Homo sapiens: one gene and its partners. The protein of the gene in region 4 purifies or fractionates together with the protein of the main gene of each other region. This does not show direct contact. Each region holds a gene or a part of one and is shown on either strand. Other genes may lie near its edges.

Region 1 (3,570 bases), on a different chromosome or scaffold from region 4:
GTATCTATCAACATTTAAAATGTAGGGCACATGTTCTTAGGACATCCTGAGTGCTGTGTCATGGGCAAAAAAAAAAAAAAAAAAGTACGTACACTTTTACTTATATCTTCAAATAATTCATTGTGGATATATTTGCACACATGTAAAGATATTGTTGATAATAGCCATGTTGTCTGTCATATCAAGAGACTACAAACTACCTGGCTACTTGGCATCCAGAAGACACTGTGTGTCCCATTCATATAAGGAAATGCTATGCAACTGTTAAGAATGGGGTGGATAGGTATACAGTATATTAACATAGAATAGCCTTCATGATTACATTGTCGAGTGAAAAAAAATCAAGTTTTCAACCTTGTGTACAGAATGTTCCTATCTGCAGTTTTTAAAAGGGAGTTGAGAGGGCTGTTGTGGACCTGTTTTCCTGTATATAATAGAATATTTCTAGAAGCATTCACAGACCTAGTTGCCTCTGAAATGAGGACTGAGGGTCTTGGTGGAAGAGACACTAATATAATTTACTGTTTACTTTTGAATACTACTTGATTTTTTAACCATGTGCTTGTATTACTTTTTCAGTTACAAAAAAGATGCAGAAAAGTCTACATATGTTGACACAGGAATTTATCAATTTACTTATACCTAGGGAATAATGTTTAGCAGACAAATCAAGTTGCAGTGGAATAATATGTACAATTTTTGTATGATGACAAAATTACAACTATCTGGAGTTTATAAAAACACATGTGCAAAAGGTCTTATCGCAGGCCTCACTGGTGGTGACTCCACTGCCAGTCTGTTTAATCAGTTCCTCCCTTTCGACGATTGCAGTTGGAAGCACTAGGGGTTATAGTTGTTCTCTGCTGCAATGTGAAAAATCAAGAGGGCTCATTCTCACCACTCCTTGAGTATTTACGAGGACTGTGAATGGAGTTGATTGACTTGCTCAGCCTCTGCTCAGCCTCCTACTGATAGGTTTGCCTGTCTGCAGGGACCGTATCCCTCAGCACATTTCCTGGCTTCCCCTGCAGCTGGGATTCCTCTCCAGTGAAGTGCACTGTGGGAGACTTGAGTTCAGAACTGAATCACTGGGGAGAGAGGTGGTATCCCCTTTCCTTGAGGGAACTAGTAGCTGTGGTATGGCTCCACCATGGCTTCCTGATCCCCAGATCCCAGCTGAAGCGCTTTCTTCTTGGTACCACCATGTGCAGGGGTGGCCTTGTGGTTTCCAGATGGTGACCTCTTTTTCTTCTTTCCTTTTACTTTTTGTGTAACATACTCTGTACCAGCCTGGGTGCCATAGCAAGAACCTGTCTCTATAAAAACTTCTTAAAATTGGCCAGGCATGGTGGCACAGGCCTGTAGTTCCAGCTACTCCAGAGACTGAGGTAGGAGGATCGCTTGAGCCCAGGAGGTTGAGGCTGCAGTGAGCAGAGATGGCACCACTGCACTCCAGCCTGGGCAACAGGGCAAGACCGTATCTCACACAGAAAACAAAAATACATTTAAACAAAACAAAACGAAAATACATTTAAAAACTCATTTATAAAAATAGGACAGGGGAAGCTGTAGGTATAAGAATGTATGCTGGGAAGCCGGGTGCGGTGGCTCACACCTGTAATTCCAGCACTTTGGGAGGCTGAGGTGGGTGGATCATGAGGTCAGGAGATCGATATCATCCTGGCTAACATGGTGAAACCCCGTCTCTACTAAAAATGCAAAAAGTTAGCCAGGCGTGGTGGCGGGTGCCTGTAGTCCCAGCTACTCGGGAGGCTGAGGCAGGAGAATGGCGTGAACCCGGGAGGTGGAGCTTGCAGTAAGCCGAGATTGCGCCACTGCACTCCAGCCTGGGCGACAGAGTGAGACTCTGTCTCAGAAAAAAAAAAAAAAAAAAAAAGAATGTATGCTGGGATGGTAGTTATTGCTTCCTAATTACAAATATTGAATATTAATCTTTCTGCTCTCCTTTCCCCCAGCTCGTGTTTGTTGTTTTAGCATTTTTAACAGGTGTGCTTTGTTCTTATCCTAATCCAAATGAGGACAAGTGCCCAGGAAATTACACAAACCCATTGAAAGTTCAGACGGTTATAATCCTTGGGAAAGTTATTTTGTGGATTCTCCATTTACTCCTTGAATGCTACATCCAGTATCACCACAGCAAAATCAGAAACCGAGGCTATAACTTGATCTACCGATCAACAAGGCATCTCAAGAGACTTGCGTTGATGATACAGTCCTCTGGTATGTCCAATTTTCTCTCAGCTACTTGGGTGCTTGAGGGACAAAAATGACAGCAGAAAGAATATATGAAGTTTGATTTTAGAATCAAATATATTCTCTCATTTTTGTAAGGTTGATGTGTGTTCTGACCACTAAAATTTGGATCACCTTAATGTCTTAAAGCTTTTCTTGGCCGGGTGCGGTGGCTCACGCCTATAATCCCAGCACTTTGGAATGCTGAGGTGGGCAGATCACGAGGTCAGGAGATCGAGACCATCCTGGCCAACATGGTGAAACCCCGTCTCTACTAAAAATACAAAAATTAGCTGGGCGTGGTGGTGCATGCCTGTAATCCCAGCTACTCAGGAGGCTGAGGCAGGAGAATTGCTTGAACCAGGGAGTCAGAGGTTGCAGTGAGCTGAGACTGTGCCACTGCACTCCAGCCTGGCAACACAGCGAGACTCCATCTCAAAAAAAAAAAAAAAAGAACTTTTATTATGAAATATATAGCCTTAATTTTCATTTGAAATCTGTTATTTGTTATGAACATGGTGTCCTCATAGCATGTGTGAAGTGTGGAATTATACCCTCTTTTGTTACCAGGTGGTTTACTCATCTCATAAAGATAGAAATGCTGTTGCTATTTGACATTTCTGAGGATAGGGAGAGGGAATTTTTAAATTTTATTTTATTTTCTCTGAGGCAGGGCCTTGCTCTGTCACCCAAGACTGAAAGGCAGTGGGGCCTTCATGGCTCACTGTAGCCTGGAATTCCTGGGCTTAAGCAATCCTCCCACCTCAGCCTCCTGAGTAGCTGAGACTACAGGTGCATGCCACCACACCCGGCTAATTTTTTTAAACATTTTATGTAGAAGCAGGTTCTCACCATGTTGCCCAGGTTGGTCACTGGAACTCCTGGCCTCAAACAACCCTCCTGCCTCAGGCTCCCAAAGCTCTAGGATTACAGGTGTGAGCCAGTCCTGGTGGGAACTTTTTAAAAATGAAGCTCAGTGCTTTTCTTGCAGTAGGAGACAGTAATGGTTAGTTCCTAGGATAGAGGACTGTTAGGCAGTGAGATGCATTATATCAAACAGAAAACTTGGAAAACACACAGGTCCTAATTTATGAAGGCAAGATCAGAAGGTCCACATGAGACTTAGAATGCATGAGTACTTGCTTTTCTTTATCGTTGCAGACATTTTAAAGATTTAATGGAATTAAATTGAACTTCTTTAGGTAAATTTGGCATTAAGTTATAGTAAATGGCCGGGCACAGTAGCTCATGCCTGTAATCCCAGCACTTTGGGAGGCTGAGGTGGGCAGATCCCTTGAGGTCAGGAGTTTGAGACCA
Region 2 (3,570 bases), on a different chromosome or scaffold from region 4:
TTTTTTTTTTTTTTTTTTTTTTTTTAGATAGGGTCTTGCTCTGTTGCCCAGGCTGGAGTGCAGTGGCATGATCACAGCTCACTGCAGCCTCTACCTCCTAGGGTTCAACTCATCCTCTTGCTTCAGCTTTCAGAGTAACTGGGACTATAGGTGTGTGCCACCACACCTGGCTAGTTTTTAACCTTTTTGTAGAGATGGGGGTCTTACTATGTTGCCGAGGCTGGTCTTGAACTTCTGGCCTCAAGCAATTCTCCTGTCTCAACCTCCCAAAGTGCCGGGATTACAGTTGTGAGCCACTGTGCCTGGCCTGATTTAAATACAGTTTAATTGTGAGTCTTGGTGATTCCAGCCTGTGAAGGACAGAGTTAGGACTAACTGGCAGGGCATATTATCATGTGGCTCCCAGCTGTGCTGGAGAAGGGGCTGTCAGTCCATCCGCCTGTCTCTGGATAGGATGGATGTCAGCAGTCCTGCTAATGTCAGTCTTGTGGGCAACAGCCATCCCACTCTTGATTTTATTTTTATGTTTTTATTTTTTATTTTTTGGTTTTTTTTTTTTTTTTTTTTGAGACAGACTCTTGCTCTGTCACCCAGGCTGGAATGCAGTAGCATTTAACTGACATGTCAGTTAAAATCAAGAGTGAAGGCCAATCTCAGCACTTTGGGAGGCCAACGCGGGCAGATCACCTGAGGTCGGGAGTTGGAGACCAGCCTGGCCAGCATGGTGAAACCCGGTCTCTACTAAAAATACAAAAAATTAGCCAGGCATGGTGGCAGGCACCTGTGATCCCAGCTACTCGGGAAGCTGAGGCAGGAGAATCGCTTGAACCTGGGAGGCAGAGGCTGCAGTGAGCCAAGATCGTGCCACTGCACTCCAGTCTGGGCAACAGAGCGAGACTCCATCTCAAAAAAAAAAAAAAAAAAAGGCAGCAAAGGCTAGGCACAGTGGCTCACGCCTGTAATCCCAGCACTTTGGGAGGCCAAGGTGGGCAGATCACTTGAGGTTAGGAGTTTGAGACCAGCCTGGCCAGCATGGCAAAACTCCGTCTCTGCTAAAAATACAAAAATTAGCCGGGCACGGTGGCCATATGCCTGTAATCCCAGCTACTCAGAGATTGAGGCAGGAGACTTGCTTGAGCCCAGGAAACGGAGGTTGCAGTGAGCCGAGATCACACCACTGCACTCCAGCCTGGGCAACAGAGCAAGACTCTGTCTCAAAGAAAACCCAAAACAAAACAAAAACAAACAAAAAGCCTGTCCCTGGCTGATGCTGATAAGACATGTTACTTAGACTCTGGTTGTATTGGGAAGGTGCTGCAGCCAGGACACCTGTGTCTGGCCGGGACATCTGTCAATGGGACCCCGGTTCTGGAAGGAGATGGTCAGACCCCCATGTTTAGCTGGGGTGCTGACAACTGAGGGTGTCACACTCACCTGGTGCTGCCGGTACAGCAGGGGGATGGTGAATAGACCAATCACTCCTGTGGGTACAGAGATGGGGGCGTCAGGGTGTTCCCAAGAGATGAACAGTTCCATCTGGAGCCCTGTCCCCCACCAGACTCCAAGTCCCCATTTGCCCCTTACGGCCTTCCCAGCTCACCCAGAATGAGAAGAGTCAAACCATTGAAGATGGCACCCACGAAGGTCAAGATGTAGAAGAGGAGGGCCAGCTGGGGGTGAAGGTCAGGGTCAGCAGAGCCCACCGGGAATTCCCTCTCATGCTGTGAATTTACCCAACAGTCGCCCTCCCACCCCCTAGCCATGCAGAGGTGAATGGGGGAACCCAGGAGGGGCTGAGAGCTCCAGGCCACCTTGAGGGAATCCACGAGGTCTTCTACCAGGAAGAAGTGCCGCAGCTGCGTGGCCGCCGAGACCACGCGGGAGGTGATCTGGTGGGACAAACGTTCCGTCTGCTCCCGAGTCAGGGTGAGGTCCACATCCAGGTAGGCCCTGCGGGGACAAAGGAGTGTGGGGCGACTCAGTGGGTGACCAGCTCAGACTGGTGCAGGGGCAGCTGAAACAAGGGAGAGGAATGGCGGTTGGGAGAAGACCAGAGTTAGGACTGAGGGGCAGCTCAGAGGAATCATATGTAGAGGGCTGGGGTCAGGGTCAGGGTCAGGGGAAGGGATCGAGGATGAAGGGTACCAGGTTAGGATCAGAGATTAGGATTGAAGGGTAGGTTAGGGGATCGGGATGAAAAATGATCAAGATGAGTCGGGGTCCGGGTGGGAGTCGGTGCCTGATTTGAGGTCGTGGGTCATGCTTTAGGGTCAGGACAGGGGCTCAGGTCAGGGGCCGGGGGTTCTCACTGGAAAGGGTTGGCTCCATCCCCCCGGTGCACGGCCTGCAGCACTTTGCGGTAAACCCTGAGAGAGATGGTGCCGCAGAGCAGCAACAGAGCCAAGTGCGCGGCCACGGACACGATGCTAAAGTGCAGGAGGCAGAGGAGGGAGACCATCAGGCCTGTGAAGACCACTCCTGACGTCCTCGTGTCCTTCCAGTACAGCAGGTCCGCCACTGTGGAGGGGTGGGGGGCATCAGGGCTTGTACCTGACCTGGCTGGTCTCCTCACCTCCCTTTCCCTGTCCTACAGCTGAAAATGACTTCTCGACACACCTGTTTGAGCATAACCTGATTTCCTTTTTTTTTTTTTTTTTTTGAGAGACAGGGTCTCACTCTGTCACCCAGGCTGGAGGCAGTGGTGCAATCATAGCTCACTGCAGCCTCGATCTCCTGGGCTCAAGTGATCCTCCCACGTCAGCCTCCTCAGTAGCTGGGACTACAGGTGTGCACCACCACTCAGCTAATTTTTGTTTTTGTTTCTGTTTTTAGAGGTAGGTGGCTCTCACTGTGTTGCCCAGGCTAGTCTCGAACTCCTGGCCTCAAGTTATCCTCCTGCATCAGCCCTCCAAAGTGCTGGGATTATACGTGTGAGGCACAGCACACAGCCCGATTTGCAATTTTTTAAAAATTATTTTATTTTATTTTTATTTTTTTCTCTATTGCCCAGGCTGGAGTGCAGTGGCGCAATCACGACTCACTGCAACCTCCGCCTCCCTGGTTCAAGCGATTCTCCTGCCTCAGCCTTCTAAGTAGCTGGGATTACAGGCATGTGCCACCATTCCCGGCTAATTTTTGTATTTTTAGTAGAGACGGGGTTTCACCATGTTGGTCAGGCTGGTCTCGAACTCCTGACCTCGTGGTCCACCCGCCTTGGCCTCCCAAAGTGCTGGGATTACAGGCATGTGCTACCGCGCCTGGCCTTAATTCATTATTTTAAAGAGCTGCATAGTATTCTGTGTTGTGGCTGTGCTCCTGTGCTCTCATTCATTTTATTTAACCATGTACCTATTGCTGGGTCATTCAGTTTGTTTCCTAACCCCTTCACCGCAAGCAGGGCTGCAAGCAACATCCTCCAACAGATATTCTCACCTCCTGGAGTGACTATTTCTGAGACAGATTCCCAGGGTGGAATTGCTGGGTGGACTGGTTGTGTGTCTGTGTGTGTGTGTGTGTGTGTGTGTGTGTGTGTGTTTTGTTTTTGTTTTTATTTTTTTTGAGACGGATTCT
Region 3 (3,570 bases), on a different chromosome or scaffold from region 4:
AAGTTAAAATCTGAACCCAATGGAAGTGGGCTTATCTCAAATTGCAATTTAAATAAGTCAAATTAGTGATTTGTTTGGTTTTGTTTTATAAATAGACATTTTAATTTAGTAGTAGGGACAGTCCAGCCCATATAAACATATGTAGTTCAATTATAGATCCTTAATACCTAATGGATTAAACCTGGACCTTAATTCAGCCTAATGTTGGGAAATTAATGTAATCTTTGGCAGAAAAGAAAACCTCCAGAGTTCCCGTTAGGCAGTGGAATGTAAAAAGGGTATTCTGGATTATCCAAATTTAAGATCTTCATGTATATTTTAAAATATTCAAATTATTTTTCTGAGAATACTATGGGAAAATCTAGGAATTTTATCAGTACCACATTTAGCTCATAACTCTCTAATATGAAGTTCAAAATATATTTGCATATAATTACATTAGTTTGCATGTTTTACTGCTTCTTTCAATTTATACCTTTCCCACATTACATTCTATTATAGCTGCATGTATAATTTTCTCCTGTTACATTTATTTTGGTTGTTTTCACCTTTGAATTGATTAGTGTCATTTGTTCAAGTCTACAAATCCAGTAATGTATGGGCAATAATACTGGGCTACCATTCTTCTTAGTAAAATGTATACATCTCATTAAATGCATAGGACCATCTATAAGGGTACAGCAAGTAGAATATATTAATTTATGTTTTTATTCAGTTGTATTCGTTTTAAATTTTAGATTTTATGTATTTTTTAAAATAGGAGTAATCAAACAATAATACATGTATAGAATTTAAAATTAATTTAAACATACTGGGAGTGAATGATCAAAAACTTCTTTCTCATTGATATAAGTAAAAATCAAAGATTTTGGACATCACAGGACTACTGAACAAAGAACCAAGGAAATCAGTGAAATAGCGAGAAAGCTGTTATTATTATTACAGTGTATGAAGAAACACTAAGAATTCCAGGACAAAAAAGAATGTTTTTCTGTTTTTTTCCCCTGTAGAGTAATCATGTTGATCCTCAAATTTCTCTTAGTTATAAAAGATACTTGCAAGTAATATGTTCAGTGGGAAATATCATTTGAATAACAAAGATCATTAGTAATCTTTGCATTTATATTCTTTAAGAACTATACAAAGTTACATACTTGAAATATTGAAGCATTAAAACCCATGAAATTAGACATTATTTCAAAATAACAATATATGATAAATTCATAAGAAGAGAATTATTTTCTTTTCCTTAGCTTTGACTTTATTACAAAGTTAGAATTGTGATATTTATATACCGATTAACAGGATTAACAGTGAAGCCTTTGTCTGATGAATTTCAATATTCATGTGTTTTGTTTCTAATTATATTTTTGTGGAATGAATTTTGAAAGTTATTTTATGACTTAATGAGAAAGCAATCTTGCAGTGTTCTTATGTTATTTACATTTAGAAGTTTTAATTTATCTCTTTTTTAGGTTATAGGTTGAGTCCTCAAACATTAACTACTATTGTTAAACGTTATAGCAAGAATGGCAGAATTTTCTTTGATGATTATGTTGCTTGCTGTGTGAAGCTTCGAGCATTGACAGGTATTGACTATTTAAAACTAAGTGCACAGTGTTATGTAGCTATTTTTCTTGAATAATGTGTCTCATTTCCTCCAGCAAGTTTATAATAATATGTGTTTTCTCCCTTTATTCACTGTTAAATCTAATTAGTTTAAAGGCTTCAAATATTAAGGAATATAAATGATAAAAACGTTATGTTATTTTTGGAAGTTTTTCTCATATCTCTGTTGCCAGGGCTATTCAATCACTTAATATTTAATTGAATATGAAATTATTCTTTTTGTGTACCTGGGTGCACTAAATATTTGAAACTATGTATTTTAAATTACAATAAAAAAGTAATTTCTTTGTTTAAAGATTTCTTTAGGAAAAGAGACCACTTGCAACAAGGGTCTGCGAATTTCATATATGACGATGTGAGTATCCTGCTTTTGATATTTATACTGCATTCTAGATAGTTCTCAGTTAGTAAAAAAATTTAAGTGATCCCAAGTACCAGTACTGGAAATAATATATTTGGTATGCCACATACTTTTCCATATTTTTCAGTGTAACACAAATATAAGATTAATATTGGTATAGGTGCCAAACAATTTGACTTCATGTTAAATTGTAAATATGCTTTTCAATTTTTATGACAGGTTTTTTGAATTAAAAAAAAAATGATCTTTCAAATCACTTTTAAGGGCCAAAACCACCATTATTTTTAAAAAGGGTAGTTTACTGTAGTGATATTTTTTCTCAGGGAGGGAAAAATTTTAATCCGTGACGGATTATGAAGCTGTTCATTTCTCATTTCAAATGGTTACTATTAACCTGATATTCAGGGTTTTTTAAAATTCAAGGTATAAGACAGTTATATTTACCTGTGCTTTAATGTTTCAGGGTTTTTGTTTTGTTTTTCTTATATTTACTGATGGAAGTTATGGGGTCAACATTACTGATATTTATTGGCTTGAATTATAAGCCTTGGAAACAAACTTTTCTCTCTTAAGAAAATGCTCTTATGGAATATAATTAGTCAAAAATAATTAAAAACCATTTTATTCTTAATAGATAATAATTTCACTTATGTATTAGTTTTTGCAGGGCACTATGGCAATTTGAATGCTTAGAATTTTAAACCTGAAGAGACACTGTGAATTCTTTTGTTTGGAAGAAGTGAACTGGACTACTTTAAAACTTTTAAGGGTTTTCTATGTTCTTCCTACCTGTTAAACCTCTTCCCTTTCTGTGTGTTTTTATTTTAGCAGATAGTTCAAAGCAATAAAAGATTTCTTTTTTAATTTGAGGTATTACTGCTTTTGGAAAAGTTATTTTATAAATATGTGCATATTGTCATAAAATATTGTATGATTAATTGATTTAAATAATGCTTAGCCTTAATTTTAGATAATGTAAATTTAGAGGAATGTACTTTACAAGATAGATTGTATAAGAAGCCAAATAATGAAAGCCTAGAAAAAACTAATTTATACTTATCTGAAGGTTACAAATTAGACTTTTAAATTTTCTTTGTAGTTGGTGGTGTTTGAGGGTTGGCTAGAAATGAAAGCCTGGATTTTGTGCCATGTTTGTAATATAGTTTGTTCCTTGATCAAATAATCAGAGAAAAGAAACTTAAAGATCTTTGTCTGTGAAGAAGAAAATTATCTCCCTAGTTCAATCTGTAGTGAAATAAGACTACAGAAGGCATTGTTTTTTCCTTTTTTATTTTTTGTATTATATATTTTTCTTAAATATGTTTTATTGTCTTCTCTAAGCAAAAAGTTCTTAATAAACATAGTATTTCTCTCTGCGTCCTATTTCATTAGTGAAGACATAGTTCACCTAAAATGGCATCCTGCTCTGAATCTAGACTTTTTAGAAATGGCATATGTTTTTGATGATATGTCAACATTCAAAATTGTCCTAATTAAATTGTTGTTTAAATGTAATGTCAACTCTTTATAAACTTAAAAATAAACAAGTAATTAACCACTCTAATTGTTCAGAAATTTTA
Region 4 (3,570 bases):
AAAATATTTCCAACTGTGCTGCCCTTCCCAGAATGTGACACCCTAATCACATCCAGTTCTGGGCACCAGAAGCTAAGAGGAATAAAGAAACTTCTAAGAGGAATCAGATGGCCACAGAACTGACAAAAGATTAGCGAATTCCTATGAGGAAGAGTTAGAGAAGTTCCACTATTACAATGGTGAGGCCACTTTGAGTAAGTAAAGGGTAATGATGCAGAGGCTTCGAGTGACTCTTCTCTACCTCTGTGAAGAAGGCGGGCAGACAGGGCTCTACTGCAGTCTTCATCATTTAATTCAGGAGAGGAGGGTATTTAGGCATTGGAGGGAGGTTTTACTGTCTTCTTTCCCAGATATCTTTAAACATGGAGACAATTCTCATTTGTCTGGAATAAACCTCCTGAAAACAGAGAGGTGCCCATTATTTGGAGAGAGGCCAATGGCTCCAGCATGGAGATCTGCAAGGCCAGGCGCTGCAAGCCGGGGGCAGTGGCACTGGACACCTCGCAGGGGCAAAGCACAGCTGTTGGCAAGCCCAGTCAAGAGTACACTGACAGTGTTACTCTCAGAGAGTGAGAGAGTTCCAGGGCTGGAAAGGGCCTCTAGATTATCTACTCCAAACCCCTCCATTTAAGATGAGGAAACAGGCTGGGCTCATGCCTATAATCCCAGCACTTTGGGAGGTTGAGGCGGGCGGATCACAAGGTCAGGAGACCGAGACCATCCTGGCTAACACGGTGAAAACCCGTCTCTACTAAAAAAAATACAAAAAATTAGCTGGGCATGGTGGTGGGCGCCTATAGTCCCAGCTACTCAACAGGCTGAGGCAGGAGAATGGTGTGAACGCAGGAGGTGCAGCTTGCAGTGAGCCAAGATTGCGCCACTACACTCCAGCCTGGGCGACAGAGCAAGACTCCATCTAAAAAAAAAAAAAAAGATGAGGAAACAGACTCAGAGAGCAGAGTGACTTATCAGAGCTCACCTGGCTAATTAGTGACAGGACCAGGTCTGGAACCTAGGTTTCCATACTCCTAGTTCAGGTCTCCTTTCACTCCATAATGCTAACAAGCATTGGCAAAATAAAGTGCATATAGCTTCTATTCTAGACTCTGGATGCAGGGCTGACATACAGATCAGCTGTCTTCCAAGTGCTTAATGTCCAAGACACTGAGTCTCGAAGAAAGATACAGAGAGTGAACAATTAAGAGAATAAGCTCATTGCTTAATAAGAACATGACATTGTGTACAAGTCAAAGGTAAGTGCACAGGAAATCCAATCTGAGCAGATGATGTGGAGGATAAGACATTTCAATTTCTCACCTCCTTTTCTTTTTTCTTTTCTTTTCTTTTCTTTTTTTTTTTTTTTTTGGCGGTGGGCGGGAGAGGGACAAGGTCTCATTCTGTTGCCAGGCTGGAGTGCAGTGGCACGATCTCGGCTCACTGCAACCTCCGCCTCCCGGGTTCAAGTGATTCTCCTGCCTCAGCCTCCCAAGTAGCTGAGATTACAGGCATGCGACACTCTACCGCCAGGCTGATTTTTGTATTTTTAGTAGATATGGGGTTTCACCATGTTGGCCAGGTTGGTCTCAAACTCCTGACCTCAAATGATCCACCCGCCTCAGCCTCCCAAAGTGCTGGGATTACAGGTGTGAGCCACCGCACCTGGCCTCTCACCTCCTTTTCTAACCAAAGTGTGTTTCCCAGAAAGAAATCTGAAAATCATAGGATGAGGAAATTTTATTTCACTTGAGAGAGAAGGTGTAGTAAAATGTGAGGAAAGGTGGAGAAGAAAACAATTCGAGTGACCTGAGACACCTCTGGATCTTAACACTGAGAAATGGCAGCATCAACAGATGACAAAGGGAAATACCAGTGGGGAAACAGTGGAGACTGATAAGGCAAGTGGAGGGTACTTTTCTCTGGGCTTGAGCCAAGATTGTCACATTGGCCCAGCCAGCACTATTGCTAGAAGGCCATGTGCCTTTTGGGGAAGAGGAATTAGGCTGTCAGTACTATGGGACAGTAGTATGGCCCATCTGGGGTGGCTTGGTAGAAGCTGGCCCCTCCAGCTATACCTCCACCAAGGCAGGAAGCCACTGGAAGTTAGCAACTAGGAAACAAGATTAGATGACTAGTTCAAAGGAGAAATGAAAAGCGTTCTAGGCATGTCTGATCTAGGTTGATGCAGGGGAATCTTTTTGAGTGTGTCTCTCCCTTGGGAAGGAAATTCAAGTCTATCTGTAAGCTAGAAGTTTCCTAAAGCCTGAATTGCAGAGGTTTTGTGTTAGTCATCTTAAGGAGGCTACCTGTGGTCCCCAAGTCATGCCCAATGGAGAGATCTGGCAACTGTCCATTTCCTGCCTCTTCATCTCCCTTGCAGACACCACTCAGTCAACCTTGTATTCATTTGGCTATTTGGTCCAGCAGCCTGAGGCTGGAAGATAAATGGAAGCCATGGGTTTCTACCTAGGAAGAACTTGATTAAAGGGGATCCTCACTCTCCCCCACTCCCGCACTTAATGTCTGCACCTGCGGGGAGTCACGGTTAGTTCTCGACTTTGGCCAGTTGAGGCCTTCTGACTCTCAAAGAGGCTTCACTCTCTCTCAGCTCTTTGCTATTTTCGCCTTCGGGTCCTGTGGCTCCTACAGCGGGGAGACAGGAGCAATGGTTCGCTGCAACAACGAAGCCAAGGACGTGAGCTCCATCATCGTTGCATTTGGCTATCCCTTCAGGTGAGCAAGAATTGGTTCCAACCCAGCACATCATCTCTCACTTGACTGGCAGGACCTGCTTGGTCTCTTCCTCCTCCAGAAACCTAAAAACCATTCATTGCGTGCCACTCCAGATTCAAATAGAATGACAAAACTTAGATCCTTTCTGCTTTTTAGCAATTTCAGACACATTGACCAGAGCAAAACGTAAGGGAAATACAGATTGATCACTGTTATAATAATGTTCCAGTCCATGGACAACCCATGGCAGGTCACACCAGCTCATACAGAAAGAGCCAATGCAGTTTGGGATGGAGGCTTACAGGAACCTGGACAAGCTGGACAGGTCTCTCTGACCCTCAGTAGCCTCCTCTCTGCCTTGAAGGTAGGGAAGCTTATTAGTACTTACATCCTAAAGAGTTGATGTGGGATCCTCAGCCAGTACGACCAGGATACAAGTGGGCACACCTTGACAGGGAGGTAGAAGTGATCTCTTTTCTGGGTATTTGAGAGCTTAGGAAGTAGGGAGCCCAGGTGTTCAGGGGAAAATGGGGATGAGGCTCACCTTTTCAGAAATTTCTAGTATCAGCACCCAAGTTATATTAACTGTCTCATATATAATAGGCTGTGTTTTTCTCTTTAATTTGTCCACTGTCTCATTGGAAAGCCCAATAAAGCCTGAGAATGGGTGATTCCAACCTTATCTTGGCCACTCTGGGCCTGCACTTTCCAGAGGCAGAATGAAGCTGATCTGCCTAGTGGTTTGGCTACCAGAAAGAGAAGAACTACATATATTGCAGTTGTGACCTAAAGGGCCCTGGAGACACTTGGGAATACATGGTCACCATGTCTGGGCAGGGT

Evidence for each region.
Region 1: the proteins of SYPL2 (region 4) and TMEM192 purify together in Homo sapiens (affinity purification with mass spectrometry; 2 studies listed by BioGRID and IntAct, with this or other methods). This does not show direct contact.
Region 2: the proteins of SYPL2 (region 4) and RTN2 purify together in Homo sapiens (affinity purification with mass spectrometry; one large-scale study listed by BioGRID and IntAct). This does not show direct contact.
Region 3: the proteins of SYPL2 (region 4) and GCA purify together in Homo sapiens (affinity purification with mass spectrometry; one large-scale study listed by BioGRID and IntAct). This does not show direct contact.

What each region holds. Positions count from the first base shown.
Region 1 is NC_000004.12:165,099,299-165,102,868, reverse strand, and holds part of TMEM192 (transmembrane protein 192), read left to right. Parts: intron 1-1,976; coding exon 1,977-2,241; intron 2,242-3,570.
Region 2 is NC_000019.10:45,487,037-45,490,606, forward strand, and holds part of RTN2 (reticulon-2), read right to left. Parts: intron 2,518-3,570; coding exon 2,310-2,517; intron 1,951-2,309; coding exon 1,812-1,950; intron 1,671-1,811; coding exon 1,601-1,670; intron 1,482-1,600; coding exon 1,435-1,481; intron 1-1,434. UniProt on the Homo sapiens protein: Inhibits amyloid precursor protein processing, probably by blocking BACE1 activity. Enhances trafficking of the glutamate transporter SLC1A1/EAAC1 from the endoplasmic reticulum to the cell surface.
Region 3 is NC_000002.12:162,357,569-162,361,138, forward strand, and holds part of GCA (grancalcin), read left to right. Parts: intron 1-1,475; coding exon 1,476-1,589; intron 1,590-1,925; coding exon 1,926-1,984; intron 1,985-2,648; coding exon 2,649-2,675; 3' UTR 2,676-3,570. UniProt on the Homo sapiens protein: Calcium-binding protein that may play a role in the adhesion of neutrophils to fibronectin. May play a role in the formation of focal adhesions.
Region 4 is NC_000001.11:109,472,976-109,476,545, forward strand, and holds part of SYPL2 (synaptophysin-like protein 2), read left to right. Parts: intron 1-2,605; coding exon 2,606-2,730; intron 2,731-3,570.